Regions from separate parts of the Homo sapiens genome. Here regions 1, 2, 3 and 5 are each reported to be linked to region 4. The links are microRNA targets in miRTarBase. Many come from high-throughput screens and were not tested one by one. Region 4 holds a microRNA gene; each other region holds the end of a gene's coding sequence.
What was found. The annotated mature microRNA hsa-miR-3120-3p reads CACAGCAAGUGUAGACAGGCA and lies in region 4 at 2,121-2,141, shown strand. An mRNA with a match to its seed (bases 2 to 7 or 8) in the 3' UTR can be bound and repressed. Matches are read on the target gene's strand: a 7mer-m8 pairs with bases 2 to 8, a 7mer-A1 pairs with bases 2 to 7 and ends in A, and an 8mer does both.

Region 1 (6,605 bases), not on the chromosome of region 4:
ATTATGTAGTTTTACAGTTTAAGAAGTGTTACGATTTTTTAAAGTCCTCAACTTTTAGATGTACATACGGAATGATTTGCTGGTGAAAGGTCTAGGATCTGGTTCCAAAAAGTCCAGGAAAGGGGAAAAATGGGTAGGAGAACAAATATAAGCCATGAGCTTATAGCTATTGATTTTCTCTACCTGTACATGCTTGAAATTTCCCATAAAGTTCTCCCCATCTATTAAGTGAAAGAAGTGGGTAACTGTATGATCCCATTATATAAATGTATGAATACACACACCCAAAGGTCTAGAAGGGTATACACAAAAAAGTAACAGTATCTCCCTCAGTGCTATCCAGTAGAACTTCCTGTGACAATGTATATATTCTACAATCTCCCCTGTTCAAAACAATAGTCACTAGCCACATGGGGCTATAAAGTTCTTAAAATGTAGCAGTACGACTGAGGAAATGAACTCTTTGTCTAATTCCAATTAAGTAGCCACATGTAGCTAGTGAGTTCCATTTTGGACAGCACAAGATAATGGAATTGTGGATGATTCTCTTGCTTCTTCTTAACATTTCTCCACAAGCAAAAAGCTTTGTGTTTGCAATAATTGAAAAATTAAACTGTTTTCACTTAAAATATTTATAGACTATTGATGTGGGTTCTCCACAGAACTATTCTGAAAATGAAATGAAGCTGAATAAAGCAAGTTATATTGAAAAGTTTATGTGTCTGCTTTCAATTAGCTTTTTTTTTTTTAAAGCAAATGCAGGTGATACACTTCCAGTTTGGTTTTTTCAACCTTCCATTCCTTCAGTCCCAATTCACTGACAAACGTGTGTGTGTCTGTTTACTAAAAGGATAAAATGGGAATGTGCTGCATAGATTAGGAACATTAATGTCAATCATAATGGAAAAAACTTAGAGCAAGCCCCTCCCCCCACCCCCCAAAAAAAACCTTTTATCTTTTTGCCAATGAATTAGGGGCTATAACAGCTCTGTGAACAAAGAGAATTATATACTTAAAAGATCCAAATGGATTTCTTGATTGAAGTAATCAGCAAATAGGATGAATGTGGATTTGAAAGGGCTGGGAAGAAATACCTTAAAAATAATAGTACCTTAAAAATAACTGCTGTTGACAGATATGTTCACAGTGTATTTCACAAGAAAATGTAAATCACCATGAAAGAACTAAGCCAGAGGTGAGATCTTTATTGACTTATTGTAATTTTTTGGCATACAAATTACTTAAGTATATTTACAATTCTTACATAATGTACATTTTAGAAGATAATGTACTTTGCTCCATTTACAATGACAAACTACTGTAAAACTACATTCATGAATTAGATACAAATCCTCTACATACTAATAAAAAGTAAATGGACTGTTGGTTATACATTCTTTAAAATATACCTTTTCACAGGTAGCAAGAAATAGTACATGTAATAAGTCTTTATGACTGGAATGATCCAGAAATATCACAAAGCATGAGTAAACACATATATAAAAGTAGCTCATCATTTCCAAAAGTTAACCTTTAGCCTTTGTGTAAAATAAATGGTGCCAACAATCTTTATAATGTAGCAAGCTTTCCCTGTTTAATATCCAAAAAATGGAGGGTGGGGAGGTTGAAGAAAAATAAGAAAAGTTAGCAAATAAGATAGTGAAAAGACCAATGCAGAGAAAAGTTTATGTAATCAAATCTTGCTTTGTCTCCACATTATCACATTTTAAGTGGATAAATTTATGTAAACAGAAAAAGATGTCCACAAAACCATATCTGTAGATGTCATTTGGAAGCATCAAGAAATTGATAAGTATGTGGTGAATTAAAATTACTTTTATAATGTTTTGCTTTCATTAATGTTTGTTATTGCAAAAATGTAAGATTTCCTACAATTTTGTCTTCAAATCCCAATCTAGCCCTTCAAACTTTTATCCAGGTTCTCCAGAATATTTGGAGTCTTTGTTATCAAAGCACAAGGAAAGCTGGCATTCATTATCAGACTTCGCTGCTTTACAATGATTTCAAATCATTTCATGATACAAATAAAGTGCCTCTGACTGGTGGTCAGTCAGACCTGGGTAATGGTGCCAATTCTGCCACCAGCTAGCAAATCAAGTGACCCTGCTCTGTAAAACAAAAGGAGCACCCTAGGATCAAAAAAGTAGACAACTTTGGAGCTTAGATTAAGATCTCAGAAATCCTACCATGAGAATCCAGTGAGATAAAGCAATGCCAAGTACACTGTAAGTAGCAAAACAGTATACAAAGGGATGCTTCTATATTTTCACCTTGTTTCATTACACTCATTTTAATTGTGAGGAGCCCTGAATCCAAAAAGGGTAGTGACGACTAGTCCAGTGCTCCTTCCACCGTATCATGCGGTTCTAAAGTCATTCTGGACATACAATCTACAAAAATACATCATTTTTCCAGCTCATGTCCATGATCCAAAGTGATATTATACACAAGTGTTATCTGACAATATAAGAATGATCTGGGAATGTCTGTTCAAAACGGTAGTAAATTTAGTCTTAAACACAATTTCATTTACTGCGACCATACTTAACATGCATAAAATATTTTTAAAATACAAACTTAAATTGGCCAGATTCTGAATGTGTACTTTTTTTCTTTTTCAAAATGCACTCATGAAGAACCAAAGTTCATATTCCAAATTAAATCTGTATGTCTGGAAAAGTAACCAATCAAAGTTCATTAAAATATACAGTGAAAACCGGTATAAATTAGGCAAACACCATAATCTAATGAATATCAGGAAATTTCTGAGTTTCTAAGGATTGTATTAAAGGTAACTTTTTAAAACCTTAGAAATCTTAAGCACATAAATGTTATAATGAAGCATTTGCAAATGACTGCTCAATTACTTTTATTCTAGCTCTAACATGAAATTGCATTTTATTAACTCTTCATAGTGCTGCTATTCTTATTTTGATATTAATCTAACTTTCAAGTTAGTAAGCTAATGATAATGAGCTAACAGATTAATAATAAGGAATAAGAAACTAATAATAGCAGATAAGTTATGGAAAGAAAATAAAAGGCCAATCACATTGACTAATGAAGCCCAAAAGCATGATTAACTAAGATTTCTTATAATGCACTGAATAATTCACAGCATAACATAATTCAGATTTGTTACATACCATATAAAAGCTATTAGTTGACATGGCTAAATTCACCTAAGAGCCAACCTACCTTGTAACTATTAATTTAATTTAAAGCCTTGCTGTTTACTCCATCATTTCTGCCAAATGTAGTCCAAATTGGGTCTCAGCATATTCAAGAAATCAAGCCACAGAAATGTGTACTTGTATTGCTAGGCTCCCTGCAATATTAAAGATTTTGCTTTCTCTGAAGATATTCTGAACCATGATCATCTTTAAGGCACTTCAAATACATTTCTGACCACTAAATTTAAGTAGATACTAATTAATTACTGCCATATTAACAATTCATCACGTAAGCCACAGGAGGCAAGAGTCTCATAAGGAATTGCCTTCACAACCACAGAGATTCCAGAGGTGATCTGAATGAAACACGCACCAATGGCCAGATCCAAAAGGAAAACTACCTAGACTTCCTCAGATAAAAGTCAGGATCTTTAGGAATTAAAACAGGAAGGGACACTATAAAGGAAAAGTGAGGTTTTTTCTTTTTCTTTAACGTACTTCTTTTCTTTGAGCTTCTTGGTCAAATAATTTCAAGGTACATGCTAATAAAAACTACAAATCAGATTTTTGCCTTTAGTGAAGGTGCCTAAAAAGCCAGATGATCTATGACTTTGAGGTGAAACAGCAAAGATAAAGATTTAATGTTCCTGTTATTGTTATAATTAAATACAATGCTGTGGAAGTTAGCATTTCCTCAGAAGTAATTCACAAATATATTTTTATCCTTATCTAACATACAGTGACCATTACTAAATAAGCATTACATGCATGCAGTTTGGCCAAATTATGGAACCTTTTCTGTAATGTGAACTTATTTCAATATAATTCCTGCTTGGCTAGATTCTGATTTGATGTTTAATCAACTTATAAAACCCTAGTGACTGGGAAATGTTAGAAAATTTATCTATAATTGGATCATAAAGTTTTTATATATTTTAAAACCTCTTATTTAGAAAGAGTATCAATAATATCATTTACATATAATTTCTAAAAGAAGAATAGACTTAATTGTTGACAACAATGGGAAGGAATCAAAAGGCAAATTAGGCTGGGTGCGGTGGCTCACGCCTGTAATCCCAGCACTCTGGGAGGCTAAAGCAGGCTGATCACCTGAGGTCAGGAGTTCGAGACCAACCTGGCCAAAATGGTGAAACCCGTCTTTACTAAAAATATAGAAATTAGCTCGGAATGGTGGCGGGTGCCTGTAGTCCCAGCTACTCGGGAGGCTGAGGCAGGAGAATTGCTTGAACCCAAGAGGAGGAGGCTGCAGTGAGCTGAGATCGTGCCACTGCACTCCAGCCTGGGTGACACAGCAAGACGCCATCTCGGGAAAAAAAAAAAAAAAAAGCAAATTAATTATTTTATACTTTAAGACATTTTCAAAGATGGAATCAGACTAATTTGTAGCATATAAATGGTAATGTTTATCCATAATATTTTGGAATTCAGGGGTCTGTGAATCATGTAACCGAATACTAAAGCTATATACACGATATAATTTAAAAGAATGTACACTGTGTACAAGTACACAAAATAGATGTAGAAAAAATAAACAGCAATTTATTGCTATATATTTTAGTATTAACTAAGAATAAGTGGGGTTCTTTTTCTCCTTTGTACAGAGATTTTTCTTTCACTAGGAGCAACAGCAAAACTATCTTTAAAAGGACAAATTTCAAATATAAAAATGGCCTACATGATTTTATAAATTGATTTTTCCTTTAAAGTTTTGATGAAGGCATAATTTTGTGACATTCAAGTAACCTTTAAAACATACTTTTATTCCATCGATACATCTGTCAAGGTTTTGGGGAATCAACCCAACAATGAAGAACTACACATTTTGAACTGGGGTTTTTTTTTGTGATTAAAAAAAAAAAAGAGCTTCTTTTTGCTGCATAAAATAAATCTAAAGGACTGAATTATGGTCTACCTGTACAGCCATTATACATACATACATTAAAGTACTGGACAATAACCTGTCACCTAAGAAGTATAACCGACCGCATTTATGAACAAACGGGGAAAACACATTCTCTAGTTCTAATAAATCATATATTATGTGTATGAAAGCTAGGTTACCAAAAACACATCAACACACACACCTATTTCTGAACCACCAAAAAGCCTCAGGGAAGCTAAAGAAAACACATATTCTTGAGGCAGGCAGGACAGTTGGCTTCCACTTGATGAAGACATGCTTGACTGAGTGATCCTGGGCAAGATGCATGGAGGAAAAAAATCAATGCCACCACCCATTGGCAAAAGAATCACTTTTGTCTAACCTCCTATCATCTTGTAACCTAGAGATGGCCTAAATCTAGACTGAACTTCTGTCTACAGAAATAGCCCTTTAAATAGGCTTTTTTAATAAAAGAGGTCCTAAACTAGGTTCCTCTCCTACTACTAGATAACTATGTTTTAATTTATAAATATATGAATGGGTACCTCTTTTCCAAGCCATTCAATATCTACCAAAATTAAGTAGAATTAAAGCAGTAAAAAAATTGTGATTTTTTAGCTGTATACATTAGGGGGTCACCAGATTTCATATTTTCCCATTTTTAAAAAAATTCAGAATTTCTGTGAATCTTGCTGGAAACGATTTAGTTTCTCTGGATTATTGGATGCCATTTGGGAAAAATCACGAAATATGTCCTGATAAGTTTCATCACCTGCATGAAATAAAATAAAGACACTTTAAACATTTACACAAGTATTAATCAAACAACATTCATATTTATTACTAGTACTATTTTATAATTCATTACATTAAAATTTTGTTCAGATGAGCATTTTTGGAAGAAAAGGGGCAACTAAAAATAAATGCTGAAAAATTATGCAATGAAAGAAAAAAAAAAACTATACCTGAAAAAAGCACCTCAGATGCAGCCACAGAAGAAAGCTCAGAGTTAGAAAAGAGCAAAGATGCAAGTGTTTTAAAGCAATGTAAAGAAATACGTTTATTAACACACGGGGGGGAAAAGTCATTCTAAATGAGGTGGAGTAAATGAGACCTTCTTTAAATAAATATTTCCCTTGATAAAGGCCAAAAGAAATGACTAAAACCAAATACTAATGTTTTGGATGGATGCAAGTTATTAACAAGACAAACTGATAATCAAGACAAACTGATAATCAGATAGGGAAAAATAATACTATCTTTTAATTAAAAGCAATTTGAAAAAGTAATTTTTTACTCAAACTTTAATGCGTAATTAAAACTAATGCACCTAATCCACTGCTTCCTAAACTCATAAAATAAAAATCTAGCTGGGTGCAGTGCCTCACGCCTATAACCCCAACACTTTGGGAAGCTGGGTGGGGGGGTTGGGGGGAGAATTGGTTGAGGCCAGGAGTTCAAGACCAGTCTGGGCAACATAGCGAGACTACATCTCTACAAAAATTAAC
Region 2 (6,605 bases), not on the chromosome of region 4:
CAGCTCACTGCAACCTCCACCTCCTGGGTTCAAGCGATTCTCCCGCCTCAACCTCCCGAGTAGCTGGGATTACAGGCGCTCACCACCACACCCAGCCAATTTTTGTATTTTTAGTAGAGATGGGATTTCACCAGGTTAGCCAAGCTGGTCTCGAACTCCTGACATTAAGTTATCTGCCTGTCCCAGCCTCCAAAAGTGCTGGAATTACAGGCATGAGCCACTGGGCCTGGCCATAAGTCATTGTCTCTTGATGATGCACTAAGAGGGGCCTGATTTTCCCTCTGGTATTCTTGCATCACCTCAGTCTAACCAGGAGCAAGCAGTAGGCAAACCCAAACTGAGGGCAGTCTACAAATGAATAGAGTTGCCTTGTTCAAAAGTGGCAGGTCATGGGGACAAGGAAAGACCAAGTGCAATGTGAGATCCTAGGTTGGAAAAAAGACCTTACCAGGAAAGCCAGCAAAATCATGATAAGGTCTGCTGGTTAGTCCATAGTACTGCATCAGTGTTAATTTCCTGGTTTCAATAATTATGCTATGGTACTGCCAGGTGTTAACATTAAGGAAAACTGAGTGAAGGTTAAGTAGGAACTCTATTATTTTTTGCAATTTTTCTGTAAGTCTAAAATTATTTTAAAATAGAAAATTGCGCTGCGTGTGGTGTCACATGCCTGTAATCCCAGCACTTTGGGAGGCCGAGGCTGCAGGATTGCTTGAGCCCAGGATTTCGAGGTTCCAGTGAGCTATGAACAAACCACTGCACTCCAGCCTGGGTGACAAAGACCCTGTTTCAAAAATAATAACTTAAAAGTTGGGGTGGGGGAAAAGAGCTCAGGGTCTGGAGCTATGGTCTGGGTTCACAATCTTGCCACAAGAAATTGCTAGCTGTGTATTCCTGAGCTGTCCCCAGGCTTCCCCATCTCTATTATGGGGATGGTAATAATAGCAGCTTCCTCATGGGTTTATTCACAGCCTGGAAGACAAGCCTGGAACATTTTATTCCAGAAAATAAAAAGAAATGCTCAAAGAGGCCGGGCGCAGTGGCTCACACCTATAATCCCAGCACTTTGGGAGGCCGAGGCGGGCGGATCACGAGGTCAAGAGATCGAGACCATCCTGGCTAACACGGTGAAAACCTGTCTCTACTAAAAGTACAAAAAATTAGCTGGGCGTGGTGGCGGGCGCCTGTAGTCCCAGCTATTTGGGAGGCTGAGGCAGGAGAATGGCATGAACCCAGGAGGTGGAGCTTGCAGTGAGCCAAGATCATGCCACTGCACTCCAGCCTGGGCAACAGAGTGAGACTCCATCTCAAATGATAGAGGCATGTCAAAAGGCCACAGGAGCCAGCTAGAAGAGGTTCCCGCTGGCCAAATTTGGAACAAATTAAACATCAAAAAATAAATAATGATAGCCATGGATTATAATCCACTGAATAAAATAAAGTATGAATCCATACTGATAATTAGTAAGCTGAAAGTTTGATGAGGAACAAGGTATTGACATTTCTAAGTAGTGCCTCATAAGATAGTAAAGAGCAACTTCACAGTGAAGTTTGGCAGACATTAGCTTCATCAAGTGACAGAAGTGAACCTCCTCAGCAGTGGACAAGTGGGCATCACGTGCCTCCCAGGAAGGGGGCAGCATTCCTTGCCCACCATGCGTAACCTGAATCCAGTGTGAAAGAGACAAACCCAAGTTGTTGGTATAATTCTTAAAAGTGTCAAGGTCGGGATAGTCAAGGAAAGACAGGAACTGTTCCAGATGGAACAACTAAGGGCAACACGTGATTCTGAGTTGACTCCTTTTGCTATAGAAGACATTATTGGAACTTCTAGCAAAACTTAAATGAGTCTGAAGATTAGATGGTAGAAATATACAAATCGTAGTTTTGTGATTTTGATGGTCATGTTGTGGGTATTAAGAGAATGTCTTTGTAAGAAATAAACATGCGTGTGATGGGGCATCAGATCACCTTACTTTCAAATGGCCCTGGGAAAAAGTTCTTCCTTGTATACTTGGAAAGAGTTTAATACAGTTAGAGTGAGGCTTATATTCTTCCTTGGTGAGTGGAGATGGCATCCAATTTAAGCTGCTAAGTGGCCAGAGGTTCAGATGGAGCCCACTTCTACCCAAAAGCAAAAGTTTTGTCCTCCTAGTGGGGAACATTATATCTTTCCCCCTACCACTAGGGCTCCCAGTTACCATGAGGCAAGGAAGCGAGCTATTCCATATGGTTAGCCTGAAGCAGTTCTCAGCCTTGCTGTTGGAAACACCTGTGGAACTTTAAACTTCTGATGCTTGGGTCCTACCCCAAGATACTATTTTAATGTCTGGGTGTGGCCTGGGCACTGGGAGTTGTAAAAGATCCCCAGGTGGTTCTAAGGTGCAGCTAAATATGAGACCTACTGACTCAGGGATTGGATTTATTGATCTGTGTATTCTTTTCCTATTAGTGCCACAGAAAATTCTCACAAACTTAGTGGCTTAAAATAACACAAGTTTATGGCCGGGCACGGTGGCTCACACCTGTAATCCCAGCACTTTGGGAGGCCGAGGCGGGCGGATCACAGGTCAGGAGATCAAGACCATCCTGGATAACACAGTGAAACCCCGTCTCTACTAAAAAAAAAAAAAAAAAATTAGCTGGGCGTGGTGGCAGGCGCCTGTAGTCCCAGCTATTCAGGAGGCTGAGGCGGGAGAGTGGCGTGAACCCAGAAGGCGGAGCTTGCAGTGAGCCAAGATCGTGCCACTGCACTCCAGGCTGGGCGACAGAGCAAGACTCTGTCTCAAAAAAAAAAAATAGTTAGTTATTATCTTACGGTTCCTAAGTCTAATGTGGGTCTCACTAGGCTGAAGTGAAAGTATCAGCAGGGCTTCACTCCTTTCTGAAGACTAGAGTATCATTTCCTTGCCCTTCCCAGCTTTTAGAATAGCTACTTGCCTTCCTTGGCTCGTGGACCCCTTCCTCCATCTTCAAAGCCACCAACATTGCATCTCTCTGACCATTCTGAGTCACATCTCTGACTCTCTTTTGCCTCTTTTGTGCTTTTTGGATCCACCTGGATAATCTGGGAATAACTGTTTTAAGGTCAGCTGATTAGCAACCTGAATTCCATCTGTAGTCTTAATTCCTTCTTGCTATGTGACCTAACATATTCACAGATTCTAGGGATTTATGACGCGGACATCTTTGGGGGATCATTATTCTGCCTGCCACTGTCTGGAAATGTACTGGAGATTTTTCTTTCCGCTTGTTTTTTTGGTTTGAGACAAGGTCTTGCTTTGTCACCCAGGCTGGAGTGCAGTGGCACGGTCATGGCTCACTGAAGCCTCAAACTCCTGGGTTCAAGTGGTCCTTTCCACCTCAGCCTCCCAAAGTGTTGTGGTTACAGGCATGAGCCACCATGCCCAGCCAATTTTTCTTTACAAGTAAATTGGTTAAATTTTAAAAAAGAAAAGCAAAGACTTGGAGATGAGGGAGGGAGAAAACAGACTGGATTAATGATGTGGGGAGTCAAAAGTCTCCCTCAGCCGAGTTTGAGTTGGAAGAGATGTGGAAAGGGAAAGGCAGGCCAGCCACACAGGAGGGCTTAGTGACAGCACAGACTAATCTCATGGGCGTGTAGGGGTTAGATTTCACAGGGGGTTATCTGAGAGCTCCCCTTCCCAGAGGAAAGGGCCTTAAATGGCAGGTCAGTGCTTAGACATTTCCTGGACACAGGTCATGAACAACAAGGATGGAAGCAATAGCTTTGACTACACCTTCAGGATGGGCAAGATGAGGGGAAGGGGCTTTTCTCTGACTCTATCAGCTCCCACTGAAATACCTACTTTCGACCAATTTTGTGAAGATAGTAACTGAAGCCACCTCTGGCTAATCTCCACACAAAATGAAAAGGTATTTCCATTTTGTAGGTAAGAGGGTTTTGAGATTTTAACTTGTCCCAAGGTGTCACAGGTATGAAGCAGCTAAAGTGGGCTTTTTTGGCATTTCTCCCCTCCCTTATTCCTGTGCGTATCTCAAGCATTAAAAAAAACAAAACAAAACTATATAAATACCTGAAAGGGTGGTAAATGTCTACATATCAAATATCCAGAGTTCAAATTCTTCTCAATTTTTTTTCCTTTATAATTGTTTTCAAATCAAGATCTAAACAAGGTGTGCATGCTGCTGACTGGTATCTCCCTTATCTGTTTCTCCACATGTTCTCCCTAGCTTTTCCCCCCACTCCTTGCAATTTATTTGAAGAAACATGGTCAGTGATTTCTGAAATTGTTCCATATTCTGAATTTTGCTGCTGGTATCCCCATGAATTCTTACTTTGCACCTGGGTCCCTCAAGACTTCAAAATCCCCAAAACTCTCTTCACAAGGCCACCCTGTCTCTATGAGGATACTGTGAGGACCTACTATCCACTCAGCTCTTTACATATTAAGCACCTTGTAAGGTACTTACCTTTTTGTAGTTGTACTTGACCCCCAGAGAACATGTCCACAGAGATAGAGCCAAATGATGGAGCCAATATTTTAAGTCCTGTCAGCCTGACTCCTCAGCCCGCCCCTTTCTCTCATACCAGGTGGTCCCATTCATTGCATTACGGGTTGTCGATCTATTCTTATTATTAATCTAAGCACTATACACTGGTTATACACTTTCAGTAAGTGGATGGCAAGCTAGCATTAACAGACAGCTTTTCCCAAAATAAGCATATTCCATGCCTACCAAAGAATACGGGTAAGAAATAAGACCAGCCATCTATGGGAGAAGGAGCCAATGCAATGGCTAGTCTTTACTGGAAAGAAGAAACTTTACAGCACATTTTGAGTAATTTAGTGCAGGTGCTCAGTGTGCCAGCTGCTGGGGCACCAGCTTGTAATGGGCTCCACAGCGGGGGCATCGCTGGGCCTCGCCTTTGTGCAGCCAAAACCAGACGACGCTGGTATTGTCCTCTTCACCTAAAAGGGAAAAAAGGTGGTTTATGGTCATCCAACCTAGAAAGGGAGACTTTCAACATGAATTTCTTTTCCTCAGACATCTCTGATACACAAGTAAGACTATGGTTGATATCTTAAGAGATCAGTTCAAGCCCTCCTCCCATTCTTCAGATGAAGAAATTGAGGCTCTGAGTTCACCTATGAGTAAACTGACCTTGTATCAAGGTCACTGTAAATTCTAACAATTCCCTTGCCTATGTAGAACGCAAAGCAGGGTCCGTTCTGGTATGTATCCCTAGTGTCTAAAATGATGCCTGGCATAGAAGCAGTATAACAATAAATATTTGCTGGGTGGGTACTCCTTCATGCCGCACTCCCAGTGAGCCAGTCTTACCGCTGTGCTGCGCTTCTTTCCAGTAAGGATGAACTATCAGGCATAATGAGGCTTGAGAGTGTCAAGACCCTTAGACAAACTTACCAACATGCACTCACACACTGAAGATTTGAGGCAGCTTACACACTATTGTAGGATATATTAAGCAAGTGGATAAAAAATAGAGGTGAGGTACTTACAGATGCAGCCTACTATTCTCTTGTTGGAGATGGAGGGGACTAAATTAGGGTCTTCCCTGGTGCCTGAAGCTCCCTTTGGGGCCAGTACATTGTATGGGTCCTGAAGAAAAAACAAAAAACAAAACAAAACAAAAAAAACAAGAATTGAACCATTAGGCCAAATAAGCCCTACCTTCCAGAAGCTCAGGGGACTGTTCCTACAAGCCAAGTTTCCTGTATCAAATACTCCCAGAGAGGAGACCACTATGAACACATCCAAGGCCATAAGTTACACAGAAGACACAGAAGGGAGTTTCTCCTTACCAGTCCCTTCTTTGCAGCCAGCATGATCTCCCTCTCCAACCCAGTCGCCTGCTCTTCATCAGTGGGAACACCACCTAAAGGAAGATAACGTGAATTATGACGCTGACTGAAATGACTGATAGAAAAACTACAAACAGAAATGATCAAGGAAAATGGTGCCCCGAAACTTCTGTATAAGTTTTAGCGGGCTCACAAGCTCCTAAAGGCTACTCATATCCATGGTCCCCTAAGAACCACCAAGTACCCATCCACACAAGCGGCAGCACTCGGGGGAGCTTTTTTTTTCTTTTTTGAGACGGAGTTTTGCTCTTGTTGCCCAGGCTGGAGTGCAATGGCGCGATGTTGGCTCACGGGAACCTCCGCCTCCCGGGTTTAAGCGATTCTCCTGCCTCAGCCTCCCGAGTAGCTGGGACTACAGGCGCGCGCCACCACGCCCGGCTAATTTTTGTATTTTTAGTAGAAACGGGGTTTTACCATGTTGGCCAGGCTGGTCTTGAGCTCCTGACCTCAGGGGATCTGTCCGCCTCGGCCTCCCAAAGTGCTGGGATTACAGTTGTGAGCCACCGCGCCCGGCCTATGAGCTTTTCTTTCTCCAACCACCGAGGCAAATTTGTCGACATTTGTCTAAAAGCATGTAGAACCCACTCTGCTTGAGGTGGGCGCAGGTTTGAAGGGAGGCCGGACCCCTCCCCATCCCGGTGGCAGCCCCGGTCCCTCCCAAGGTCACCCGGCACCTCCGTTTAGGATACTTTCGCAGCGGAGTGAGTTCGGGGAGCGGCAGGAGCAGCGGTCCAG
Region 3 (6,605 bases), not on the chromosome of region 4:
AATATAGCATGAGAAGTGCTGACCTGGAAAGCACAGGGTTGCACTTGAGAAACCAAGCCATAATGAAGAACCAAAACTGGATTTAAAGGAGTCAGAGAAGTTTCCCTGGAGGACATGATGTCTCACTTGAGGTCTTAAGGCTGTGTAGATATTGGTCAGTCTGGTAGGGAGCAGTTAAAGAAGTAAAGCATGTACAAAGTTCTGGAAGTAAGAAAGCATGTCTCTTTAAAGGAACTGGGGAAAAGTTCAGTATAGTTGAATCCTGGAAATGGAGAGTGGCAGTATAGAGAGATGAGGTACGCAAGAACCAGTACATGAAGAGCCTTGTAAAACATATTAAGGCATAAGGACTTTATCATAACGAAAACAGAAAGCCATTGAAAAGATTTAGGTCAAGGATATCAGAATCATGTTAGAATAATTCTTTAGAAAGATCTGTAACTACAAAGTGGAAAATGAAGGTAGGGAGGCTAATCAGGATTCTCAGCATGCCAGGTGAGATGATGGCAGAATGGACTCAGTGATGCTAGGAATGAATAGAAGTAGAAAGATTATATTTTTAGAAGTAAAATAGATTTGGTACTTGGTTACATGTAGGTAGTGTAGGAAACACAGAGTCAAGGATGTCATCTACAACTCCTGCTTGAGCAGTTAGGGAAAGGATTGTGTCATTTGCTGAGATGGGAAACAGGAATTAAAGATTTGGGAGAAGGATGCTGCGCTCGTTTGGACACGCTGAGTCTTGGGTACTATGGGATAACCAAATGCAAATAAATATTGGGCAAGCAATTGAATGTAGGAGTCTTAAATTCTGTACAGTGCTCTGATCTAGAGATGCAAATTGGGGAGCTGTTAGGATGCAAATGGTAACTCTGCAGCCACGGGAGTGGTGACATTGCCGAGCTGCTGTGTGGAGTGATGTGAGAGCAGGCTGTTGGACTGAACTCCAACGCATACCAAAAATTAAATGTTGGGCAGAGAGACAAGAGTTGCAAATGACCTCTAATCCACCAATACTCCTGAAGTCATAGTTTGTAAATAAGTTTATATTCTTCTCGGCCAACTCTATTACCAGGCATGAAAGTCTTTTTTTTTTTTTTTTGAGATGGAGTTTCGCTCTTGTTGCCCAGATTGAGTGCAAGGGCATAATCTTGGCTCACTGCAAACTTTGGCTTCCGGGTTCAAGCGACTCTCCTGCCTCAGCCTCCTGAGTAGCTGAGATTACAGGCATGCACCACCACGCCTAGCTAATTTTGTATTTTTTTTTTTTTTTTTTTAGTAGAGACGGGGTTTCTCCATGTTGGTCAGGCTAGTCTCGAACTCCCGACCTCAGGTGATCCGCCCGCTTCGGCCTCCCAAAGTGCTGTCCCAGCACTTTTATAGGGATGAGCCACCGCGCCTGGCCGTCTTACATTTTTTTTTCTCCCTTCAATTGTAAAGCCATAAATTGGTAATGAAAGCATTTTAAACACCTGAAATTAATAAACATTTGTAAAATAACTATTAAAACAATCTATGAACCACACGAATAGCCTTTGATTGCTCCAAACCTGGCTTTGACTATTTTGAGCTTTCTATATTACAACAGACCTTTACTTATACTGTAATTTTTCCTCTATCATTCTGTAAGTTTTGCCTTTCCTGATTGCCTGGATAGTCTTTAGTGGATTTACAGCTTGGTGACAGCCTAGAGAGATTTTCTGTGGTCAAAACATGATTAAATAGAGATTTGTTGGTCAGAAGATAACCATGAACCATAATACCCACAAGGGAAAGAGCCAGATTCAGTTTTGGGTGGGTCGATGGGGATTTACCTCATATGCTTTCTTTTATTTCACAAAATGTGTTCTGTTCTTTACTTTCGTATCTGTAGGAATAGAAATGGGAATGTGGCCTCTAGGGTGTGCTGATGTATGTTTAACAGCTGGCTTTCAAGGAAAAAAAAAAAAAAAAGATCTGATTTGCAGTGTTTACTAATTTTTTTGGTGTAAATACTCTCACCATGGCCAATTTCAAACTACCAACTTGACAGCACTGAAGGCAGAAAAAATGTTCACAGTTGGCTCTTGTAAGCCAGTGCAAGCTTGCTCCAGCACACTACTGGACTAGGAATGATCTGCCTGTAGCCAGGAATGGGAAAATACCTTGCCCATGACAGCTTAAGGTATGAGAGGACAGAATTCTACAAAATACAGAGTTTTTACTTTAAGAAAAATGGATTTACTCATCTACAGTCTGTTTATTTGTAGACTTCGACCTTTTTCTTTTGAATTACTGGCCATATGAGTATGCATTATGTAATAACCTTAGCATTGTAACTTCTATTTCTTTATTCATAAGCAATAACAGTTTCTAAAACTGGCTTGTATTTGAGATTGAAATGATGAGAATCATTTTCAATCCAATTTTTTTTTTTTTTTTTTTTTTTTTGAGATGGGGTCTCACTCTGTTACCCAGAGTGCTGGAGTGCTCACTGCAAGCTCTGCCTCCCGGGTTCACGCCATTCTCCTGCCTCAGCCTCCTGAGTAGCTGGGACGACAGGCACCTGCCACCAGGCCCGGCTAATTTTTTGTACCTTTAGTAGGGATGGGGTTTCACCATGTTAGCCAGGAAGGTCTCGATCTCCTGACCTTGTGATCCACCCGCCTCAGCCTCCCAAAGTGCTAGGATTACAGGCGTGAGCCACCGCGCCCGGCCCAATCTAATTCTTTATACCATGAACCAAATAAATTACCAGTTTTATTTCAGGATATTAGTATAATCTGCATTCTAATATATTTCATAAAAGAAAATATTTTATTTCCATTACATAGGCAAAGTTTGTTTTTTCCCATATCAAAGCCAAATATTATTTGATGTACTGACCAATAATATATGTAGAAAGAATAACAGCAAAATATCTTATTTCTTTATATAATTTAATATATACCCTATTAACACCAGTGTGCAGATGTACAGTACTGACAGTATACTAAATAGTTAGTATTAAAAATTACTTTAAAAATGTTTTCAACATTAGGTACTGGTGGAACCAGAGCTGTTATTTTGTACATCATATCATTTATGTGTTGCAAAGGAAAAGTAAAATTTCCAGTAGCATTAGAAAAAAATGTACTGATATTTTATGTAGATATACAAAATCTCATGACATCTATTGAAAACCTCACAATTCTATTGTGCACTAATAAAAACACCTTTTCAAACAACTTGCACTTATACTGAGTTCATAAAGGCTACTATAAAAATATTGCAAAAGCAATAAAAACACAATATCGTACAAAGTCTTTTGTTTTTTAAAAGTCAAATTTTAAAAGGACTGTATTTATATAAATGTGCAATACTTTTTAGTGACCCTGACTAACATTTTTGTTTAGGATTATCTGATTTTAGAAAACTAAGTTAAATGTTTTTCCTTATTTTCTGTTTCAGAATGAGAAGACACTAAGAATGCACAGAGGTTTAGAAATAAGATTGGGTAAAAGCTTTATGAAGTGGGATAGCAAGCACTCTACATGTTTTACTTGTTGCCCTACCAAAGATACAAATGCCTGACTGCCCCAATTTCTGAAATTTAACTTGAATTCTAAATCTTAACTACCCCCCTTTCCTTTATAATCTTTGAGATGAAAGTGTAAAGATTTTAGGTTCTCTAACAAAACCCAAAATATCACTAAAGCCATTCTCCATTTTCAAAGAATATTTAAAGAAATGCGTATTTCAATATAAAACCTGAAAATGCTGAATTAAGACACCTTAATAACATGGCTAGCCAATTACTGATGTGACTTTAGCCTTAGAAAAAGATTATCAAAATTGGCTAAGTTCCAAATTTAAGCATTTGGTTTTATACTGTTAATATTGTACCTTTCTGATATAGATATCAAAGAAAAATGATCTGATTTTTTTCCTGAAAACAACAGTAAAATACAAATTTTTTGTGAAAAAATCCATGTCAAGATAGGAAATACATTGTTTCAAAACTCAGAATAAGTGTTATGAAAGAACTATAAAATTATAAATTTCTAAAAAAAAATACACTGAAAATGTCTCTCTAGGAAAAAATATGCAACTTGTTAGATACAAGAAAATATGGCATTACCATAGGGTGCAGTCAACTAGGCTATGAGACTTTAAAAACTCACAAAAAGTAATTAGCACCAAAATTGTCTGAAACTTCAAATGATATATTAAAGTAGGTCTAGGTCCAAATGTTACATTTTAAAAAAGTTATATTTAACCTGGGAGCTTTCCCCAGTAATAATAAATATATTATTTTTGACCTTTAGAAAACGTTCTATCTTTACTGATTTTCATCACAATATTAAGGTAGTGTATGCTAATTATCATTTACCTTAGTTTAGGCTGGGTAGGGACAATTGAAATCCAAATATTTCCCAAATAATATGAGATTATTTGGTGGGGAGTGTGAGTGGGGAGAAGTTTTCTAAGTGAAACTTACTTTTAGCTTGTTTCATACTTTTTCTTCTGAAATGTTTTATTGGAACTCTTTATAAGAACTATATTGCTTGATTTGAATTCCATGTCCTGTTATTTTCCCTGTTCACTTTCTGGTGGTGTTACTTAAGATTTGGCATGGGGATAGAGGTGTATAAAGGAGACAGAGATCACAGTAGTGAAACAAGAGTTTTGAATAAGCTAATGTATATTCAAAATATATATTCAACCCTGTTATGATCAAGAGTTTAGTTTTAAGTGACATCCATGTATAAATTTACTTACAAAACAGCCAGCACATGATTTGAAACAAGGCAAACTTTTTCGGTTGTCAAAAAGTGAAATATATAACTTCTTCAATTACATATATGGCTACCAAATGTCAAACAATTCAATTCGGCCATGTTTTACTGTTGCACATAAATAATAACAAGGCAAAGAACAGCAACTAGTCCAAGGGCTTGCAGGCCAAGGAACCACAGCATAACCCAAAAGAAAATGACTATTACTGGTTCCACTATTCGTTCTCCAAAATACATCCTTGTGAAGCCCATGTTGATAAGGTTTTTGTTCAGTTCACCAAAAAGTGTTCCCATTTTCTTGTAGTCATCTCCAACCGGCTCACCAGTGTGGTTCTGTGAGTCTTCAACATCCTTTAAAAAAAAAAAAAAAGACAAAACATGAACATAACATGAGAAATATGTAAACGTCTTTAAGAACCTTAGTTCTTCATCTTCCAAAGTGCTGGGCATACTTCTGATAATTATTCTACAAGTACCTGTTAACACAATGGGAATGTTCTTTTTGATCCTGGAATTGCACAAAAATGACTGCTTAAGTGAAGAATCATGTTTGTATTTCTCTTGTGAGTGACCATGATTTCAGAACACCCTTTTCTGCCACCCTCCTGTTTTATGAGGCAAGGCCTGACTGCTCTGTCCTGGTAAGATTCTTTTTAGACGGTTCCTTTGACACTAAGACGTTAAGAAACCGAGCCTCAGATGACCAAAGCATGTTTGCTGTTATTATTGAGCAATCCTCAGCCACTACTGCTGTGATCTTTGTCTTAGGCTCAGCTAAGCAGACTTCAGCGCAGGCCCTTGCATAGTTTCCTGTTCATTATATAGATGCCCTAAATGCCTCTTATTAATTTCATCAGGAGAAACAAATAGTTTTAATACAAATTTTTTTTTTTTACAATAAGGCCAAATGTCTACCCAGTAGTTAGTATCCCAGAAAATGTCTACATGCACCCAATTATACATACCTAAAGTATTATTTCTATTATCTTCCACTTGTATTATAATTAAGGCCATGACAGTAAGCTACTGTCTCTTGGCTTCAAACCCACTCTTTGGAATTCTGCAAGCATTTCTGTCTCCCTGTTAGGCTCTGCCAATAGAGGGACCAGCGTGACACTTCACAGGTAGAGAAGGAAGAAGGAATTTGCTGTTTCCTTCGGATGGGTTTCTTAATCCTGTTAAGTCTCACTCTAGCAACAATTCTTCACTCCGACAGCAATAGTGCCTGCTAGTAGTAGCAGCTGATTGCAATTTGGGGGTTTTCCAACACTTGTAGAACCAATCTCAATGTGCCTTCTTGAGATGCCAGCTCCAATTACTGGGTGCTTCTTCCTCAGATACCTGGTTCCCAGGTCTATAGGCTCCCTCCTCTGAACTCAGAGAAATCAGTACCAGGCAAGCAGTGACCTGTTCTCAAAAGTCTGAATTTCAGTTCCATGGGGGCCTTTTTGAAGCTTCTCAGTTTCAGTAAGTCCATCCATCTCTTTTTCTTTCTGCCCAGTCCTATGAGTGGTTGTCTTGGTGATATTTTAGTGCAGTGGTTTTTAAACTTTAGCATGCGTTAGAATCCGCTGGAGGGCTTGTTAAAGCACAGCTTGCTGGGCCTACTACTAGAGTTTCTGATTCAGTAAGTCAGGGGTGAAGTTGGAGTCTGAGAATTTGCATTTCTAGGAAGTTTCTAGGTGATGCTTATGATGCTGATCTGGTGACCATGCTTTTCCAATACCCAGTTAACAATTACTTATATTAAATTATCTTTGTTAAAATAATTGGTATAGTTTCTCTCCCCCTCCCCACCGCCCCAGACCCTAGTAGAATCACAAAAGAAAAACTGTCATGTAGGTGAGA
Region 4 (6,605 bases):
AAAATGAGTTTAGATTCAAACCCACTCCCCTATATGCATTATTTGTCCCACTCAAAAGTTTATCCTGGAAGAGCAATATTATCCTTTATATTACCCTTTCCCAGAAGAGAAAAATTTTTAAATGTGCCTCATTTAATGACTTTAAAATACATACAAAACATTCTTTCAAGCATTTTTTTTGAAAATTGAGTAAAAAATGTTTAACAAAAAAGGTGTTAACTTTATGTTTTAAGGAAAAATATTGAAAATGTTATCCTGGAGTGCCTCACCTTAGGATGACTCTGCTGCCGTCCTAGCTTTCCCTTTGGAGTCTGAAGGACGGGTGTAGTCTCCTTAATGTTCTGGCTAGGTCATTGTCTCATTCTGGGAGCTGTCAAGCACTCTCCTGAGCCTTGCAGGGTCCAGTAGAATAATTCCATACGTGAACTCTCATAGGCAGCATTTGCAACAGGTGGTACAAGGCATTTAAGATTGGGTAGAACGATGTCGATATTCTGTGAGTAATTTTTATATTGTCTTCCTGTTTATATTCTACATTTTGTAAGTATTGTTTAGGACTTTATTTGCTAGTAATGGGACTTTTATTTAAGGCAAAAATCTGCATCGTGCAATGTATCTTGCAGAAGCAGAGATGAATTTTAGCAGATGACATATTGCCATAAGACAAGATTGTTTAAATGAGAGAAATTTAACTTTAATCATATTTGTGCTTTGTAGTTTTGCCCCATCATTCAGTTTTTTAATTAAAGAAACTATAATGTCAGGTTTGGTTAAAATATCATTGTCAGAAAATTTGAAACTCACTGGGATCTTAGCTTTAAGACTGAGACTTTCATTTTAAAAATAAAATAGCTGAATGAAAAATAGTTTGCTTTAGTTAAGAATACATACATAAAGTGTTTAATTGTTAAATGTGAAAAAAGTTTTGAGTAGCCTTGTGTTACATTTTTTAAGCTTGACCAGAATCTAAGAAAGATGAAAATTAATTTCAAATACTGAAGCTAAAACATGTTAATGAACTAAATAAAAGTTGACACATTTCTAATTTTATCCATCTTCCCACCTTTTACCCTTAAGTATTTAAAGTATTCATAGACAAAAGCCATCCCTTATCATTTCACTCCAGTTAACAGTGCATAAACTGAAGTTTGGATATTTTCTCAAAAGATGTGTCAAAATATACATTTCAAGTGCATTAACCACTTTCCTTATGCTTCTGAAGATAAATGAATTGCCTGAACATCTCAAGATCTTGAAAGTTTATAGTGATGGAAGCATAGGTTGCAAGTGAATGTGTTGGCCTTGTAAATTCTACTCCTAGAACTGTAGCATAAGCACCTTCTTAATTAAAGAATGACGCAGTCATAAATTTATGTATACCATGACGCGTGGAAGTATCAAAAATTTCAACTTTCCATATGTCAAAAGAGGAGAAACTATTATTTTAATATAGTTGAACACTAGTTGGAAATAGTAGTCTTTTCACTGTGTTTTGCCCAGACCCAGACTGGCAGAGTTAACCCAGACTGGCAGAGTTAACTCAAAGCACTTGATCCTTTGGAATACTCTTTTTCTCCCTTTTCTTTTCTCTGTCTTTCCACCCTATCCCCTTCCAAAAAAAAAAAAAAAAAAAAAAAATCATGACATAGAAAACCATACTTAGTTTATGGACAAGAATTCTTAGAATAATTTATTCTTTGTTAAGCATCAGACTGAAGTTATATTGTTTTGTTATATTGAGTTTTTATATCAATATAGGGTGCTGCAAAGCTGTGTACAATAAAGGTCAAGGGTAGTGATTTGCTGACAACAATTAGGAAAAGAGAACTATAGAATGCACAGGAACATTTTCAGAAATGGGTTTTATTATATTTCATAGGCACCACTCACTTTACTTTTGGTGGGTTTTAATACTTGAATCAAAATAAAATAATACATGAGTTAAGTATTAAACCAACAGATTAAAACCCCAGGCCCCCGAGCCCCTCATTTTGGTTGTAGCTCTTGGTGTAGATGCTATGGTGTGAGGGCTGCTTTCTTTCAATGGCTGGTTGTCATTCAGGCTGGGTTGTCATGTGACTGCCTGTCTGTGCCTGCTGTACAGGTGAGCGGATGTTCTGCACAGCAAGTGTAGACAGGCAGACACATGACAACTCTGTCCAGCCAGGCCCTTGGTTCCTTCAGGTTTCCTTTGCTCATAGACAGATACAATCAGCCTGTTTTCCAGATTTGGTGATTTTGGAGAGTAAGGGGAAAGGGAGAAAAATACACAATATAATTAAACATTAAAACATTATGGAACTAAAAACAAGTTAGACTTTTGACTTTATTCAGAAAGTACATTTATACATTTGTTCCAAATGTGCTAACATGGATAATTTGCGTAACAGAAAACTCACATTAAAATTTTAAGGAAAAAAAGAGATTAAACACAAGGTTTATTCTTAAGTCCAATTCATATTATTACTGGCCCACATGTAGTCAGAGTTCAGCGTAATTGAACCAGATGTTTTTCCTCTTTGCAAAAAACTGCATATTTTAATACTGAAGTTAAAGATAAAAACTATGTTTATGCATGTTTCTTTTAGTAGATAAGTACCATAACCTTGTCCATGAAAAAGAAAATTATCATTTACATGGAAACAGCAGCCCTTTTCAAAATAATTAATGAGCCTAATTTATTTGGCAACCCAAGTTGCTGACTTTGGTATTTGATGCTCTGATAATAGGATCCTACAAGGGAATATGTTTTTACCAATTATATGTGAAACAACAGGAACCTATTTAAATGTCTCATTTTCCTTTTAAATGCAAAGTTTATAACTGTGGATGTGAAATCAAATTAAAGGCAGTTGTGAGCTTAAGTTATCCACCTCTTAATTAACTATAGGGCCATGCTGTGAATCAAAAGGGTACAAACTGGAAGGCTGTTACTCACAGTGATGCTCAGAATGTGTTTTGGATATAGTTAGTGCAATATAGTTACAAAATAGTACTTAAGAAAAGGCAGAAAAGGCAAATTCATTTCATATCCAAAAAATTAAAACCAGATCCTTTGAAAATTTTTCTTATAATTTATATGAGCTAATAGTGTTAAATATGCAGATATAAAATTTAATTCTGGTGAGTTGAGAGTAATTCTATTTTAATATCAATTATCAATTCACATCTTTAGAAGTATTAAGCAAATTCCCCTCCCCTTTTAAAAACAAAAATATCCAAATAGTCAAAATTCCAGTAAGTAGGACTTCTTAAAAAACACAGCACCAAAAAAACACAGTATTGTCCAAGGATTGTATAATTAGACATTTTCTCAAAGAACTTTAAGAAAAACAAACAGTTTGTGATTTATCTTTAATTGTAAAATTCTGAGAAAATAGCAAATAGAAACTTAATGGAAAGCAAAATAGTTTTAGATACTGAGAAAATTACAATTTTCTACAAATCTGGACTTTTATGCAGTGATTAGGTAAGGTAATGTTTTAACAAAAGCTAATAAGTGCCATTTTCTGTGTATTTATGTAATTTCAAGAAAACAAATTTCCGATTCTGTTTCGGCCATCACTTTCGAGTAAAGGAACTTTTTTTTTTTCTTGACAGAATCAAAAACATGAGTAAACTTGGCTGTTATTTAAATAATTACAAGGTTAGAGTATGCCAAAAACCAGTGCCTTAAAATACTATTGTGTTATTGTTGCTGCATTCAGTGCAACAGAAAGTAATTATAGAGTGATTCACTTACAAAGAGTATATTGGTGGAAATTAAAAATTACTATAATTCTTTATAACTTTTCCTCTCTCTCCCATAAATAATTTGATCCAGTTAACTCTGCTCAATTAAAGGAATGATGCATGCAACCTGAAAAAATAAAAAGAAATATTTGTGAGTTTGTATGTTATGCTTTAATATAAAACAGTTTTATTAAGGCAAGATATAAAAATTTTTTGAGCCAGAAAAACCACAACAGTTTTTCAGGGGAAAAAAAAAATCTTGCTGAAAACAATTGTTCTATTCATAAGGCTTTTGGACAATTTATGTTTCTGATAGATTTTTAAAACACACTTACAGTAACTATGTGACATATGCACACTTCATTGTTATGTTGAACCTGCCCCTAAACTTGTTAAAAAGATGAAAGACTGAAAACCATATTGACCTTTTTTTAATCTCCCAAATTATAGGTTGAATATTAGTTTATTATTACTTAAAATACTAGCTAAAACATAAAAGAGCTATTTGTATTATTATCATACCATGTAATTTTTAGTGTGGTTATTACACCTTGTTTTCTTTTTGTCTTTTATTTCTTAAGGAAAAAAATGTAAGAAAAGAATTGTCTTCTAAGTCTTCTGTAGTGAAATTAAACCAAAGCAACTCCAGGAAACTGGCTGTCACGCTAAGTCAAAAAATTCAAAATGAAGATTTAATTATTTTTCCTAATTTACTTCGTTATCTCTAACTATTAAAACTGATAAAAATTATTTGTAAGAGACCTTTGAAAATGAGTAAATATTTATTTCTACTTAATTTACAGAACATGAAAGTAAGAAGGGATTTGAAGTAAGAAAGTTTCTATCTTAACTCAGGAATTTCCTGTCTCAGGTTAAAGCCTGACCTTCTAGTTATTTTAAGCCAGGATTTCTGAGTGATGGTCTCTTAGTTATTATTTTGACGTTATTGTGATGGGTGGGCTATTCTCCTTAGAGCAGAGTAAAGTGCATTGTTTATAAAGAGCAGATCCCTTACAGAGTAAGTGAAAGCTTTGGCGTCTCTTTACCGAGCATGGATGCTTGTGGATGAGTGAATTTTTTCACATTACCAAGTTGTACTTTTTATATCTTATAACAGCTTAAGACTTCAACCAAAAAAGTGGGGAGAATTCTTTCGTTAGGATTTTTATGCCTAAACTGTTTCCCACAGAGTGAAATACATGGGTGGTCTGTAGGCGAGAGGTGGGGGTAGATAGTATATTTTGGTCTTTTACAAACATAAACATATTATCTGGGCCGAAAGCCCGAATGCCAAGCAGGAAGGATATTAAGCCTATTGACTAACTACAGGAAAGTGATCAGTGTGAAACTTTGTCCTATAGTAAACAGTCTTTCTTTGATTTTGAGATCTGTGGCCTAAAAGAAAAATGAGTTTGAAAATTTAAGTCCACCGTTTTAGATTGATCCTTTTCCAGTTAAGAAATTGTGGTGTTGAAGCTAAGGCTCTGAACTTCCTTTCTCTTAGATGGTGGAAAAGTCCTTTTAACCCAGTACCTAGTCCAATTTATCAATCATTCACATGCTAAAATGAAAAATAATTATGAAATTTCTATGAAGTGTAGTTTGGACAGACCCTGAAACAATTTTCTCTTCATGACCACATATAATGTTTAATTTTAATACTTACACTTATTACATCCAGGGGTAGTTTTAGTTGAAGATGCTCACTGTTGGTTAGTTTCCTCTGGAATAGATTCCATGATCCCTAAAATATTTGTATATCTCCTTATAAAGTAATATGAAAATAAAATTAAACATTTTTCTAATTTACCTGGATATAGATATGGCTATAATGTATATAAATGTGGGCGTGTGTACCAGCGCATAAACTACAATCCTGCCTTCATTCAGCAGAGCTTTATAAAATGAGCTTTTACCTTTGATCTTTAATTTAGCCCATATAATTGAAAAATAAGTACTATTCGTTTTCATTTGTTAAAACTTTGCCTCGAAAATAAGTCGCTAGAGCCACATCAAGCATGTGCAGGAACTCCTTGGTTATCCTTTTACAAAGTAATTCTTATATTTCTACTCCTGTACTTATGCCAGAGGCACCCTTATGTCCCTTCTATCTCCAGACTAAAAGTCATCCTGAGGGAGAAAATAGGTGAGGGACCCATAGGGATTCATTTCTTTGAAACAAAAAGACCGTTTAACATGAAGAAAGAAATTGAAATTAAATATACATTAAATGAAAGCAAATTTTGAAATGTAATCATTTCTAGAGTAAAAAAAAAAAAAAAACCCAGAAAATTTGAGAAAAACATTACCAAAGTACCTTGTTAGCTATTTTTCCTCTTCAGTAATTGTATCAATTAGAAAAAATATATTTCTTGAAAAAATGAGCTCCTCTAAGTTACTTTTTTTAGTTTTCTTATGTAAAAGAAACTATATAGATTTTTAACATCTCATTTGTTCTACTAAAAATAATTAATATGGAACTCTCCAAGTCACAATAGAAAATGAAAGGATAACTTTACTATATCATCTAAGTGAAAGTAGCTAAATTTCTCCTTGCTGTTTATATTTTAACTAATAATCATGAATATATGAGAATACTTAATGTTTTCTTTATACACATTTTGGGGTGATCAGAAGGGTAATTTTTAAAGTAAGTTGTTTTGACAAAAGAAAACTTAGGGAATCTTTTATAATAAAATATTTTGCTAAAGAGAACTTGAGTCAATTTTTGAATTGTTGCAAAATGTATAACTTAGAAAAGAATTTGTTCAGGAACCACTGTAACTTTAAAGGAGGACAAAAGAGATTATGTTTATTTTTCACAAACCCTGTAGAAGAGATGTTTTCATTATATAGAATTGTTTCGGAATAGA
Region 5 (6,605 bases), not on the chromosome of region 4:
TGATCAGTGGTGGAATTGCACCTCTGACTAGCCACTGCAGTCTCCCCTGGGCAACATAAGGCTGGCCCTGTCTGTATTAATTTAAAACAAATTTTTTTGGCTGGGCGTGGTGGCTCACGCCTGTGATCCCAGCACTTTGGGAGGCAGAGGTGGGCGGATCACAAGGTCAGGAGACCAAGACCAGCCTGACTAACACAGTGAAACCCCATCTCTACTAAAAAAAAAAAAATTACAAAAAATCAGCCGAGCGTGGTGGCGGGCGCCTGTGGTGCCAGCTACTCGGGAGGCTGAGGCGGGAGAATGGCGTGAGCCCAGGAGGTGGAGCTTGCAGTGAGTCCAGATCGCACCACTGCACTCCAGCCTGGGCGACAGAGTGAGACTCGTCTCAAACAAAAAAAAAAATTTTTTTAGCTGAATTCCTTTTACCCATTTGTATGATGTCCAGTGTCTCTTCTTCCTGTGCCTGCCACAGGTGAGCAAGTGCATGGCTCTCGTTTCTCCTTTGAAGGGCCTCTTTTTCCTTAGGTTTCGTCTGTTGGGTTGCCTCGTGACCTCAGTTCTCTGATATCTTTGAGAAAAGTCATAATATTTGTAATTTATCTGGCTTTTTCTTGTTGTTACAGTGAGTGCAATATTCTTTCCAACTTTCTACTTTCTTGGGGGAAGCCAAAACCTCTTTGATCTTATGTTGATTGTCACATGAAAACAGAGCCCTCACTAGATGCCAGGCCCTGTGCTGAGTAAGGGAGAATCTGACTTGGTTTTGAGGAATTCTCTCTCCTGGCGTCGTACCTAGTGTTGGTGGAAGGGTAATTCTGGAGCACATTGCCTCGGCTTTGGCAGTGGGAGGCTTTGCTTGTAATTGGCATCTTAAATAAGTGTCCCAAGGGTGTAGAGAAAGGTCAGGGGGAGCAGCACACTGCCAGACCCACTGCCGTAGACTGAGGCTGGCCTTCTCATTCTTCTGACTCAGTGCCTATGTTGCCCGTTCACTGAAATCTGGTTCTTTAGGCTCATGACAGTTCTGTGTGCCTCCAATATCCTTCCAATAAATTCCTTTTTGCTTAAGTTTACTAGAGTTATTAGTTTCTGTCTCTTAAAACTGAGGACCTCTAACTGATAGACAAAGGAGAGAGCTTTTGTTTCAAGAGATATATACATTGCAAGGGAAAACACAATGTCTGGGGAACAATGGAATTGCCAAATGCAAAGCAAAATAGTACAGCCAAGATTGTGCGGGCCAGGGGTCAGCAAACTTGTTCATAAAGGACCAGATAGTAAGTATTTTACTTGTAGTCATATGGTCTCTGTTGCAAGTACCCAATTCTGCTGTCATAACACAAAAGGAGCATGGGTAATATGTAAACCATTGGGAGCAGCTGTTCCAATAAAACGACTTGCAAATATAGGCTCACACAGTTTGCCACCCCCTGGTATAGGCTAACATCGTGTATATTTAGAAGAAGGATGGAGACAGTCTATATATCCATCTGTGGTTCTTGGCCAGTGTTTCGAGTTTTAAGATTCTCATACCTGAGCATTGACTGACTATGGCATAATTTTTTCTGCCCACTCTTCTCTTGCAGAAGCTAAACCAGCCCCAGAAATATTTGAAAATGAAGTCATGGCCCTGCTGAGAGACTTTGCTAAAAACAAAAACAAAGAGCAGAGACTGCGTGCCCCAGATCTTGAGTACCTCTTTGAAAAGCCACGTTGAGCTGTGCTCCACGGCCTGGCATGGGGGTTCAGTCTGTGGATGGTAACTACTTATGATGGACGTTAGCCTTGCTTCCGGCTTCTTAGATGCCCAGCTGCCCTACCCCAGACCACTGGTCCTGCCTCAAGTGATGGACATAACCCTCTCCTAGGACATACATGTAAATGCACAATGTGACTCATTCTCATACTTTTTTGTTCAGCTCTGAGCCTCAAAAGTGATTTGTCAGCAGCGCTGGCATGCAGGCTTTGCCTGGCTGCTATCTCTAGAGGCAAGTCTGCCACGAGAGGGCACTGCAGGCGAAGCAGTTGTGCTTGCTCATTGCCTCAGCCCAAGTGTACTCAAAGAAAAGAGGCAGCCAGCTGTGCGTGCTGTATGGAAAGCCTCCCGCCCTCCCTGCAGCTCCCCGCCCTCAGTGGCCCAGGGCTTTGTTGAAGTGGAACTCCCCACTTCCAACCTGGTATGGCTCCTTCTGCGAAGGGAAGCTGATCCCAGCCTCCTGAGCTGAATCCTTCAAAGGCACAGCAGGCAGAATGAGGGCCACAGGCAGGAGTGGTGTGGGCACACTGCTTAGGAGTCAACATCTTCATCATTGGGCTTTCTTTAAAACGTGCACTTTGTAATTTGAAAGAGAATTATTAAAGCATACTGAAAAAAGGAAATTTACAATTTCCCAGCCCTCACAATTAATTTTAATTTTGTCTATTTTCATATAACCCATAGTCATGTTTATAGAGTTTTACAAGTTCACAATTACAGGTTTTATTTTCATGTAGCACTATAGAAAACTTTCCCCCTCATTCCTACAGTCTTCACAATTAGTTGACTAAATAATAATACATAAGAAATAATATATTAGAATGAATTAGTTAGAAGTGTTTTTAAAAGCTCTAGGGCTGTGTGACTTCTGTGTTGCTAGTGGTGCCCTCCCTGGAGGGGTTTTGCCCTCAGAGCTGTAATCTAGGCAGTAGAATCAGTCACCCAGACTGGACCAGGTGCATCTAAAGGTGTTGACTAGAAGAAGGTCGGCCAGATTTGATGAGCAGGTGGTTGGTGATTATAGGAGCCGCACACAGGGACTACACACGCACATGTTTCCAGCATTGTTGAGCTCCAGGGTTCCTACAGAGCCACCTCATGGTTCCTGCCTGCTCTTCAGTATCCCTGGTGGCTCAGGAGGGAAGGGAAGAGATCTAGCCTTTACGTAATCACAGTTAAGCCTCACAGCACTCTAGACTAGTGGTGTTACCTGTATTTTATACATAAGAAAGTGGGCTCAGAGAGAGGAAGTAATTTGTCCAAGGTCAGGTAGCTATTGAGTCGAAAAAGCAGAATTTAGTATAGCTCAGTCTGCCTCCAAAGCTCTTGAACTTTCTACTAGAACACACTGCCTTACTGCTGGAAATTTAATAGAAGTCTCTGTTTGGGAAAGCTGTGGCAAATAGATGTGACAGTTCTGAGACATGACCTCTGTGTTACATGGTGGGTAGGAATCTGCCAGGTGCTTCGCCAAGTGAGTAGATCTGAACTTGATCACCCAGTGAAGCTTCTGTGAGGAAGCAGCGCAGTGCACTGGTTACACATTTAAATCCTGGCTCTGCTGCTTACCTGCTGGATACATGAATTGACCTGAGCCTCAGTTGCCTCATCTATAAAATGGGGATGACAATGCTTCCTGTCTCAGCTAGTTGATGAGATGAAACACACAAAGCTCTTACATGGTAACTTGCACAGTATGTACTCTAGATATGAATGTCAGCATTTAGTCATAGCCTCAGTCTGAGACTTAAAACCTGTCCCTAACACAAATTGCCTGGCATATCAATGAGGTCACCATAGCTACATCCAGGGTTTCTCATCTGCAGGTCAGAAAGCTGAGCCTATTAATAGAACCACAGAATGTCTTACCTCCCAGTGAAGACGAGAGAGAAAACAGACCCTGGTGACAAGACCTTTGATGGAAAAATCTAGCACTCTCCCCTAAGCAAGGAATGGAAGTGAGACTCGCAGAAGCAGGGCAGGCGAGGAAGGAGACGTCTCCCTGGGAGCTTGCTGAAGACTCTGGCTATTCTCTCGGGCTGCATTTATGTACCCTGGGGAGAATGTTAAGCAGGCCGGGAGTTTATATATAGACATAGATCTGGACTGTACGAAGTGCACATGAATTGGGCGGTGACTTACCCATTTATCCTTTGCACGTTATGCAACAAACCCCAGTAGCCAAGGATGTAGTTGGAACTTTTCTCCCCCTCGGGTTTGATCCCTTCTTATCCTGATTTTGTCTTATTTAACACAATGTTCAATTGCTGCCGCTTTCACCTGGGAATGGCATGCTTCTAGAGGAATTGTTTTCCTCCCAGGCTGCTGGATTGTGTCATCTTTGAAAGTGAAGGATCTTGCTAAGTTCACCTGCTCAGTTGTCAGGCCCAGGGATGCTATGTAAACAGTTTTTCCCTTTATTAGGCATTAAGTAAAACTAGGCCGGCCACAGTGCATTTTTTTAGGAATTAATAAACATATAGCAAGGGCCAGCAGCCCCCGAAGGATCGCTAATGCACAGAAGCTAGACTCATTCCTTTTACTTTGACACATCCCTGCTTACTGACCTCATTCAGAGCCTGTGTGGGGCATATGAGCGTCTGGCCCTGTCCTGACCGACTCAAGTGGTCTTGTGAGTCCTGCACAGGCTCTCCACGTGACACCTTAAATTGGGTCAGGAAAGGCTGTTCTCTTTCCATCGTTTCCTTTTAATCATCCTAAGTCTTAAAAATCCATAAGCCAAACACCTTGTGCTGGAGCTTTCTGTGCCTTAGACAGAGTGTGTCTTTTGGGGGTCATTGTAGAAGCACTCTTACTGGCTTTGAGTGTTATCTGGAGGTCATCTGGTATGTCTTCTGCTCCAGCCAGGGTGGCACCAATACAGACCTGGTTCATATTTTTAAACATCACTGGGAAAAGATTCCGATGGGATAGTTGGGGTCTCTCATTTATCCTTCAGTCCATCTGCAGCTATTTGTGGCTAGACAAAGAGAGGAAGGTTTAATGATAAGCTAAACAGCTGTAGATGGCAAGCAGGTCTGTGAGATTTTTGAGCTGACAGCCCCACTTAATAGTATGTTCTGTAGTATCTGAGGACAGTGGACTCACCATCCCGCAGCTATCAAGTTGATGACACTGATCAGTACCCAGTGAAACTAACTCCTGACACCTCAGTTTCCCAGTGAACCCTCTGGGAATGAGGAGTGGTGTTCGAATTTTCCTGTCAGGGAAGATGGCATTGGTGGGATAGGTGGCTTCAGGCCAGCAGTACTTTTTGTGGCTTAAGAAACAAGTGTTGTTAGCAGTTTGTTAGAGGGGTGGTAGAAAGTTTAAGCTATCCAGGACAACATCAGTCTTTAAAGGAGATGGGTAGATTTATCATCACCTATAGCTGCAAAAGAAGAGTTAAAAGCCTTTTGTTGGATCCCGGATCTCAGACCCCAGATACTCCTTTTTTTTTTTTTTTTTTTGAGACAGGGTCTCACTGTCACCCAGGCTGGAGTGCAGTGGCAGGATCTCCCCTCACTGCAAGCTCTGCCTGGGTTCAAGCGATTCCATGCCTCAGCCACCCTAGTAGCTGGGATTACAGGTGCACGCTACCATGCCTGGCCAATTTTTGTGTTTTTAGTAGAGACGGAGTTTCACCATGTTGGACAGACTGGTCTCGAACTACAGGCCTCATGTGATCCGCCTGCCTCAGCCTCCCAAAGTGCCAAATATTCCTTTCAAAAAGGAGAATGTTTCTTTAAGAAGGGGATTGTATAATCTGTCATGAGATTAGAGTATAAAAGGAAAAAAGTGGGGGAGGGTGGATATATCATTTTCTGTAACAACACATCACAGCATGGAACTTTCAGCAAGTGAGAACGTTAAGATGTACATTCTGTTTCTCAGTGGATTCAGGTGATTTGGCTAATATTTAATAAAATATTCTCCTCTGGTGATGCCCTGGAACACGTGTTTAGGGGAAATAGAACAGAGTAGTTAAGGGGAGCTGTTTAGGAATCAGGCCTAACCTAGAATCCTGGAGCTCCCATTGATTAGCTGGGTGACCTGAAACACATTATTTAACCTCTCCAAGCTTCTGTTTCTCATCTGTGGAAAGGAAAGAAAAGGAACCCGACCTCACAGTGTGGGTATAAGGACTGAATAAAGTCCTGCCCCTGGAGAGCTTAGTACAGCCCCTGTACCCTCAGTAATACTTGGTAGTAACATCTAATAGTTCGGCTTGTTGTGTACCCAGTGCTGCTGAGTGCTTTACGTCATTTCATCCCACAATACCGTGAGATAGGTGCAATGATTATTCCCGTCTTAGAGATGAGGAAAGTGAGGCTCGGTGAGATAAAGTTGCTAGCTCAAAGTCACAGATAGGAAGCGGTTGGGCTAGGGTTTGAAGCCAGGCAGTGGGCCCCAGGGCCCTTGCACTTAGGTACCATGTGCTACCCTGCCTCAAAACATGAAAAGCATCATCATCTCTCTTCTAACGACCTCTCATCCTGAATCTTGTCTTGGTCCATGGCAGACTGCTGGTGTGGACAACTTTGCACAGATTGGGCCACCCTCTCTTGGTTCCCTATAGGACCTGGGGACCATGACTCATATGTCACAGCCTCAGCAGCTCTAGACTTAACCATCTGAGCCTTCCAAGGAGGACATGTGCAGCCTAGCTCTCCAGGTGAGAGCTTGGAGTTCAGAGACTTCCTGTGGATTTGGAGGGGAGCCAGAGGGAAGGGCTCAAGTTCTACCCAGCTTCAAGCGTTTTCTCCTTACCCTGAGCAGCAGAGATGAGCTCTTATGCTTTCTGGGCCGTCCCATCACTGGCTGTCCTTTGTATCCAAGTGGGAGGCTG

Region 1: miRTarBase lists ACAP2 as a target of hsa-miR-3120-3p. Seed matches in the 3' UTR shown: 7mer-m8 at 4,840-4,846, 7mer-m8 at 4,747-4,753, 7mer-m8 at 4,504-4,510 and 7mer-m8 at 3,816-3,822.
Region 2: the mRNA of COX5B is a reported target of hsa-miR-3120-3p. Seed matches in the 3' UTR shown: 7mer-A1 at 4,810-4,816.
Region 3: the mRNA of FAM241A is a reported target of hsa-miR-3120-3p. Seed matches in the 3' UTR shown: 7mer-m8 at 2,889-2,895.
Region 5: miRTarBase lists SDHAF2 as a target of hsa-miR-3120-3p. Seed matches in the 3' UTR shown: 7mer-A1 at 2,087-2,093.

Annotation. Positions count from the first base shown.
Region 1 is chr3:195,273,560-195,280,164 of GRCh38, forward strand. It overlaps ACAP2 (ArfGAP with coiled-coil, ankyrin repeat and PH domains 2), which reads right to left. Exons shown (of 23, transcript NM_012287.6): 23 at 1,186-5,869. The coding sequence ends at 5,769. Among named protein-coding and RNA genes, the nearest start is that of XXYLT1, 5.7 kb to the left of the region's middle.
Region 2 is chr2:97,646,346-97,652,950 of GRCh38, reverse strand. COX5B (cytochrome c oxidase subunit 5B) reads right to left here. Exons shown (of 4, transcript NM_001862.3): 2 at 5,811-5,884; 3 at 5,508-5,607; 4 at 4,568-4,955. The coding sequence ends at 4,843. Among named protein-coding and RNA genes, the nearest start is that of COX5B, 3.6 kb to the right of the region's middle.
Region 3 is chr4:112,185,196-112,191,800 of GRCh38, reverse strand. FAM241A (family with sequence similarity 241 member A) reads right to left here. Exons shown (of 2, transcript NM_152400.3): 2 at 1-5,108. The coding sequence ends at 4,863. Among named protein-coding and RNA genes, the nearest start is that of FAM241A, 43 kb to the right of the region's middle.
Region 4 is chr1:172,136,738-172,143,342 of GRCh38, forward strand. MIR3120 (microRNA 3120) reads left to right here and starts at 2,071; the gene lies at 2,071-2,151. All of the region lies in intron 14 of DNM3 (dynamin 3), which reads left to right. DNM3OS (DNM3 opposite strand/antisense RNA) reads right to left here. Exons shown (of 4, transcript NR_103486.1): 3 at 5,399-5,476; 4 at 142-3,859. MIR214 (microRNA 214) reads right to left here and starts at 2,170; the gene lies at 2,061-2,170.
Region 5 is chr11:61,444,355-61,450,959 of GRCh38, forward strand. It overlaps SDHAF2 (succinate dehydrogenase complex assembly factor 2), which reads left to right. Exons shown (of 4, transcript NM_017841.4): 4 at 1,587-2,379. The coding sequence ends at 1,717. It also overlaps the pseudogene RN7SL23P. Among named protein-coding and RNA genes, the nearest start is that of SDHAF2, 18 kb to the left of the region's middle. RefSeq lists an enhancer at 1,988-2,735.